Homo sapiens: one gene and its partner. The protein of the gene in region 2 purifies or fractionates together with the protein of the main gene of each other region. This does not show direct contact. Each region holds a gene or a part of one and is shown on either strand. Other genes may lie near its edges. The genes, in order: GRAMD1A and PREX2.

Region 1 (3,818 bases), on a different chromosome or scaffold from region 2:
GAATCTAAACTCTTCCCCCTCCATTTCCTCACCCTGATTCAGCCTCCGTCCCCTCCAGCCTGGATGTCCCAGCAGCCTCCTCCCTGGCCTCCCTGCTCCTGTACCTGTCTTTGCAGTCTGTTCCCACCAGAACAGAGGGAGCCAGAAGGAGCCTGGGACCACCTGAGTCAGGTCAGCGCCCTCCTGGCTCAGAGCCCTGGCCTGGTTGCACCTCACTCCAGGTAAAGTCAAGTCTTCACCATGAGCCACATCTGGTTCACCTTTTTTTTTTTTTTTTTTTTTTTGAGACAGGGTCTTGCTCTGTCGCCCAGGCTGAAGTGCAACGGTGTGATCATGGCTCACTGAAATCTCCACCATGTCTGGCTAATTTTTTAACTTGTTTTTTGTTTGTTTGTTTGTTTGTTTGAGACAGAGTTTCACTCTGTCACCCAGGCTGAAGTGCAGTGGCCCGATCTCGGCTCACTGCAACCTCCACCTCCTAGGTTCAAGTGATTCTTGTGCCTTAGCCTCCCAAGTAGTAGGGATTACAGACGTGCATCACTACCCCCGACTAATTTTTGTATTTTTAGTAGAGATGGGTTTCACCATGTTGGCCAGGCTGGTCTCGAACCCCTGACCTCAAGTGATCCGCCCACCTCAGCCTCCCAAATTGCTGGGATTACAGGCGTAAGCCACTGCACCTGGACCCTGGCTAATTTAAAAAAAATTGTTTTTGTAGAGACAGGGCTTCCGTACGTTACCCAGGCTACTCTTGAACTCCTGGGCTCAAGTGATACTCCTGCCTCAGCCTCCCAAAGTGCTGGGATTACAGGTGTGAGCCACTGTGCCGGGCCCCGGTTCACCACTTTAATCTCAGCTCCTACTCACTCAATCTTACTCCACTCCAGCCATTGCCCACACCCCTGCCTCAGGGCCTTTGCACCTGCTGTCCCAAATGAGTTGCTCTCAGCTCCTTCAGGTTCTTGGTGAAACATTTCTTTCCCAGTAGGCCCTTCCCTGACCAGCGTGTCGGGTGTAAAAGCCTCCACACCCTGCTTCTTTAGCCTGCCGTGTTTTCCTCATTTTTCTCCATAGGCCTAACTGCCAGTGAATGTTCTGCAGATTTTCCTGATCATTTCTCTATTGTCCAATTCCCCACTAGAATATGAGCTCCCTGAGAGAGGTGATATTGCCTGGCTTTGCTGTATCCTCAGAGTCTTGAGGCTCAAACACCCTCTGTAGATGGGAGGAGCCATCCCAGGGCCACTCTTCCTCTACCCTCCACTATTCGGAGGACAAGGGCCTCAGGAACCCCACGCTTCTGTTCCTCCACCAGGGTGGGAACCAAGGCTCTGCTGCTGACTTGAGGAGTGGACAGGAGGCCCTGGGGCCACCAGGGCATCGGGTGGAGGGGCCCAGCCACCACTCACCGGAGCCGCGCCTTGTTCCGGGCCAGACCCAGGATGCAGTAGCGGTGGGCAGTGTAGAAGTAGTCCTGGTAGGGGATGCCCTGCGTCAGCACCTCGGAGTCCACCACACACCCGCCGGCCTGGGGGCCGCGCCGGAACAGCGTCTGCAGGGACAGAGCCGGAGAAGTCAGGGCCACCCCACTCACCCAGCTGCCCCACCCACTCGGCTGCCCCACCTGGCCCACCTGTGTCTCCACCACGGAGGCGCTCTTGGGGCCCAGTGGGTTGCTGATGGGGATGGTGTACGTCAGCACCCGGCGCTGGTGGCACTTGCTGTCCCCACTCCAGGGGCTCAGCGTCACGTCTAGAGGAGGGAGGAGCAGCATGAGGAGGCCACACCCCAGTCCTTTGCCCACAGGCCACAGGAGACTCAGCCTTCTGGGAGGTCTCTCTGGGGACCTGTCCCAATCCCCACCACTCCTCTGTGTCCCCACCTTCCTTCCAGGAGCCTAAAACCTTAGCTGTTGGGGCAGGGCCATCTCCTCCACTGCTGCAGCCTCAGTTTCCCCCTCTGCACCCGTCTTGGCTTCTGCCCTGAGCATTGGACCTGTAATCTTTTGAACACCTTCCCCTGGAAGGTCCCTGGACCCCTCGAACCCACCGAGCTCCACACAGCCTCAGCATCTCCCCAAACCTGCTGCATCTCCCAGGCCCCCACTCAGGGGTGGCCCAGGGTCCTCCAGGCTCCCACTGGAGCGGTAGGCCTTGCCCTGGACACCCCCTACTCAAACCCCTAGATGGTTACCTACACTGTGTGTTCACCAAACCTCCTGAGCGTCACTCCTGGTTCAGCCCATCTTTGCCTGCCCAGTGCCCCTGCCAGCCTTCCCTTGAGTGTCTGGCCTCAGTCTCCCCATCTGGTCCAGGGGCATCTTGTTAAAGCCAAGCCTGACTCTATCCCTTCTCTGCCTAGAACACTCCATGGCTCCCCAGTACCCCTAGAACAGAGTCTGAGTTTGGTATAGTTTGGATATTTGTCCCCACCCAAATCTCATGTTGAATTGTAATCCCCAATGCCGGAGGTAGGGCCTGGTGAGAGGTGTTTGGATCATGGGGGCGGATCCCTCATGGTTTGCTGCTGTCTTCATGATAGTGAGTTCTTCCGAGATCTGGTCATTTAAGTGTGTGGCACCTCCCCTCCACTCTCTCTCACTTGCTCCCCCTTTGCCTTTCAGCATGATCAAAAGCTCCCTGAGGCAGCCGGGCACAGTGGCTCACGCCTGTAATCCCAGCACTTCGGGAAATTTGGGAGGCCGAGGCAGGAGGATCACCTGAGGTCAAGAGTTTGAAACCAGCCTGGCCAACACGGTGAAACCCCGTCTCTACTAAAAATACAAAAATTAGCTGGGCGTGACGGTGGGCGCCTATAATCCCGGCTACTCAGGAGGCTGAGGCAGGAGAATGGCTTAAACCCAGAAGGCAGAGGCTACAGTGACTCAAGACTGTGCCACTGCATTCCAGCTGGGGCGACAGCAAGAACCTGACTCAAAAATAAATAAATAAATAAATAAATATGTGTTAATGATCACAAATTTAATGTCCACTCTGTCAGGCCTATGCAGGGCTTGGAGGCCAGTGGGAGACCAGGATAGATGAACTCCTGTCCTTAGCACCCAGAATCTCTTGAGAACAACAGGAAATATCTATAAATAAAAACCACACACTACTGGCATGGTGTGAGTTAAGGGCAGAAGCTGTGAGTATCTGGGGGTATCTGGGATCTGAGGAAGGTAAGGGAAGGCTGCCAGGAGGATGTGAAATCAAAACCAAGGCCTGAAGGAGGAACTGAGGAAGGAAGGGGTCGGGGCAGAGGAGCCCAGGAGGCCGCGTGATACCAGTAAAGGCCCTGAGGCTGGAGGCCAATATTGAGAGAAGTCCCCTGAGGCTGGGATGGGGCAGCCAGGTATGGAGAGGGGCAGCCACAGCTCTGGGTGAGGCTGAAGGGTTGACATGGGACCAGCCAAGGAACTTGGGAGGCTACAAAAGAGATTCAAGCAGGGGAGGAGCGTGTCAGATGGGAGTTTCTCTTTGTTTCTTTTTCTGTATTGATGAGACATGCAGTATCCCCTGCAGTCAGGAAGATGGTGCCTTGTGTTGGGGGGCTACAAGGCCCCCAAAACTATGCTTATGTCCTAAAAGGGCTGGCGTGTCAGGCTGAGGAGCTCTGTATTAGGCCATTCTTACATTACTATAAATACCTGAGGCTCAGTAACTTATAAAGAAAAGAGGTTTAATGGGTTCACAGTTCCACAGGCTGTATAGGAAGCATGATGCCGACATCTGCTCGGCTTCTGGGGAGGCCTCAGGAGCATTTTTTTTTTTAATGGAGTCTCTCTCTGTCACCCAGGCTGAGGTGCAGTGGCATGATCT
Region 2 (3,818 bases):
GACAGAAACAGATAGTTGAAAACAATGTTAATCCTGTATAGGCACAATTTTCTTACCAGCTATCTGTGTTACACAATCCATATACAGAACAACTCTCCCAAATTAGGCTCACACAACCAGCGAAAAAATGCTTTTTCCAAGCTACTCATATTAGAAAAGGGAAGGATTTGAAATATTACATTGTCCCACTATGCTTTGTCTGAGGTCGGTAGTAACAGGTGATTATTGTGAAAGACCAATTAAAAGAAAAACAATCAAAAACTTTTTTCAAGATCTTTGTGGAAAATCCAGCATCATATTTGACTTTGTTAAGAAAATGAGTTTGAGGAATTAGTGAATTACCTGTAAGAGTCTCTGTTGCTGATGGTGTCATGACCAGAATCTTCCTGTTCATCTCCTGCTACATTAAAACATACCCGTTTGCTGTTTCTTTCTCCCTTCTCATTGTCACTGTCTGTTGGTATTATGCCCTCTGATGTCTTACGTTCTAATTTAGGAGAATATGTTATTGAAGACAGAAGGCTGCAATGTAATATTAAAAAAAAATGCACATTTTCAAACTGTCTGCTATATATAACTACCTTATTTGCTGAATACAATAGGCTTACAAATATTTCTAGAGTGCTTCAATGTTTCATATCAAGTAAATATTCTATTGCATAAAAAGCATGTCATTCAAAGTTCTCTTGTTCTTCACAAAATAAGTCATACAAACAACATACAATTTAGACCAGAAAGCTTCATTGAAATACAGGTTGTGCCATGTATGACTATAGCTAAAACAAAGCTGTGATAGTTTTGTTTGACACTTGTGAAATGGAGATAATGAGAATAACTGGCTTCCATGACTGCTGTGAGAATGAATATTCCTGGTGCATAATGGGTGTCACCTCTAGCCCCTGGCCATTAGCACAACCATCACCACCTTATGAAAATACTCGGTAATCAGCCGGGTGTTGTGGCTCATGCCTGTAATCCCAGCACTTTGGGAGGCCAAGGCAGGCGGATCACCTAAGGTCGGAAGTTCGAGACCAGCCTGACCAACTTGGAGAAACCCCGTCTCTACTAAAAAATACAAAATTAGCCGGGCGTGGTGGCGCATGCTTGTAATCCCAACTACTCAGGAGGCTAAGGCAGGAGAATTGCTTGAACCCAGGAGGCGGAGGTTGTGGTGAGCCGAGATCGTGCCATTGTACTCCAGCCTGGGCAACAAGAGCGAAACTCCAACTCAAAAAAAAAAAAAAAAAAAAAAAGAAAGAAAAGAAAAGAAAGAAAAGAAAAACAGAAAATACTCAGTAATCTTTAAAGTGCTAGCCAAATATTAAACCCAAACTATAAATGGGCCTTCATGTCCTCACTGGCTCATATTCAGTATTAAAAACCCACCTACCCTCTATCTATGCCTTGGGTTTTGCCCAGGCATTCCCTATTTGGCAGGGAGAATATTGGATTGTCTATCCGTCTCCCTGCTCGTACAAACAGGAGTCTTGGCCTTGGGGATTACAAGACACTAAACAGAGTTACATACAATGTGAGGATGGGGTAAATCTGCAAGCCAGCCAGGATGAAATGTCCCAAATCTGCCCACAGAAAGAGCTCCTCCACCTGGCTCCAGGCTAAAATGCCGCAGTCAGACTGAACTGTGTGAAACCTGCTGAGGACTTTGAGTAGCTGCTGACTCCAACACTCTAGGCTTGAACATTTGGCTGTGGCATGTTTCTGTTACAACTAACTCAAAATTAGGCAAAAATGGAATTGAACTTTATTATCAAAGAGCATGCTAAAAAACTTGCAAAATGAATTAAACCATGTATAAACAAAGGACCCATATAGGGCTTCTCAAGCCAGCAGCCATCTTCGCATTTACTAAATACCTGTGATTTTCAGTTCCAATCAGTAGCACATATCTTGATTCTCATTTTTCCATAGCAATGTAATGTTTGTTATTTCAAGACGGTGACGATATCTTATACCTCTTACGCATATTCCATAATGTCAAACCCAATGCTGTGCATTGAATAAATACCTATTAAGTGATTTCACTAAACACATTTATTATACCATGCACTGTTCTTGGTGCTGTGGATATAGTAGTTTATAAAACACACAAAAGGGCCGGGCGCGGTGGCTCATGCCTGTAATCCCAGCGCTTTGGGAGGCCGAGGTGGGTGGATCACGTGAGGTCAGGAGTTCGAGACCAGCCTGGCCAACATGGTGAAATCCCGTCTCTACTAAAAATACAAAAATTAGCTGGGTGTGGTGGTGGAAGCCTGTAGTCCCAGCTACTCAGGAGACTGAGGCAGGAGAATCGCTTGAACCCTGGAGATGGAGGTTGCAGTGAGCATAGATCACACCACTGCACTCCAGCCTGGGCAACAGAGTGAGACTGTCTCAAAAACCAACCAAACAAGCAACAACAACAACAAAAACAAAATACAAAAGCCCCTGCCTTCTTGGAGCTCAAATTCTACTGAGAGAAGACAAGTAAAAACAAGTAAACTTTCTAGTATATCAAATGGCAGCAAATGGTAAGGAGAAAAAGAAAGCAGGGAAGGAAGCGTGAAGCTGCCACTTCAAACAGTGGTGCAGTCAGGTCAGGTCTCACAGCGAGGTGAGATTTGAACAATATTTTGACATTTTATAGGTTTTAGACACCAGTGAAAAATTGAAGGAGCTATGTTACATTGCTTGAGGCCCTGTGAACATTTTTAATAACCAAAAGCTATGGATGATTTTAAACACAGTTTTTCTCTTTGGAAAGATACTTTTATGTCCTGTAAGACAGATTGTCTATTTATTCACCCTCTCCACCCAAAAGATTAAAACATTAGACTAACTCCAATTATCCAAGCTCCATGCTGCACAGACAGATGAACTCTGAATACCAAAGAGGGAAAAAATGCAGGAGTTCTCATTTTGCCAAGAGGCCTCTGTGCTTATGTATCTTTTAAATTAGAAGTCATGGGGCTAAGCATAATTTTTTTCAAAGTTATATGAATTGTATTCAGATATTTGCTTTTTATTTAAAACAGCTGCAATCATGCTTGCATTGACCCCGTGGGACAAGTGTTAGGCTTACAAACAAATGATAGAAAAACTGTATTTTTAACACCATGTTTTGCATAAAATTTCTAGATTCTGAAAAGCAACAAGGCATCAAACCATAATATTTGTGCTTGCAGAAATCCCTTCACTTTCATTGGTATAAAATATTAAGTTACCTACTAGAGGTCCATTAATTAAAACCTTCAGCAGCATGCAATTCCAGGTGAATCTTCTCCTTGTGCCATTGATAAGAAAGATTTTTGTATACAGTATGTTGCAATGACCTGTGTGTTTTTAAACATCATCATCATTGCTAACATCTGTTCAGCTTTCATGACAGTCACGATGCTAAGTCCTTAACAGGTATGAATTCATTTAATCTCTAAAACCACCTTATGAAGTAGGTATTATTATTTTCCCCATTTTAGAGGTGGGGTAGGCAAGACATATTGTTACATACATATCCTGTGCAAATTAAGCAGGATTTCCTCTCCCTGCATCTAACTTGCACACTCTGGAGGGAGTAGGGTGCATCCCGGTGTTTCATAACTCAACTCACAGAAGTACTGTGAGAATGAAATAAGCCAATGTATATAATAATGTAATCTTGCCTGGCAAATAAGCATCTATAAAAAAGTTGGCTTTTATGGTGTGCCCCTCTTGTTGTACATTTAGTAGCAAAATGCTTGGGGAAACCTCAGTGATTACTCTACCACCACCACCACCACCACCACCATTCCTATCTGTAACCCCCGGGTTACTAACTGTCTTAA

What was found.
Region 1: the proteins of PREX2 (region 2) and GRAMD1A purify together in Homo sapiens (affinity purification with mass spectrometry; one large-scale study listed by BioGRID and IntAct). This does not show direct contact.

Annotation. Positions count from the first base shown.
Region 1 is NC_000019.10:35,017,125-35,020,942, reverse strand, and holds part of GRAMD1A (protein Aster-A), read right to left. Parts: intron 1,753-3,818; coding exon 1,634-1,752; intron 1,553-1,633; coding exon 1,410-1,552; intron 1-1,409. UniProt on the Homo sapiens protein: Cholesterol transporter that mediates non-vesicular transport of cholesterol from the plasma membrane (PM) to the endoplasmic reticulum (ER).
Region 2 is NC_000008.11:68,112,457-68,116,274, reverse strand, and holds part of PREX2 (phosphatidylinositol 3,4,5-trisphosphate-dependent Rac exchanger 2 protein), read right to left. Parts: intron 523-3,818; coding exon 343-522; intron 1-342. UniProt on the Homo sapiens protein: Functions as a RAC1 guanine nucleotide exchange factor (GEF), activating Rac proteins by exchanging bound GDP for free GTP.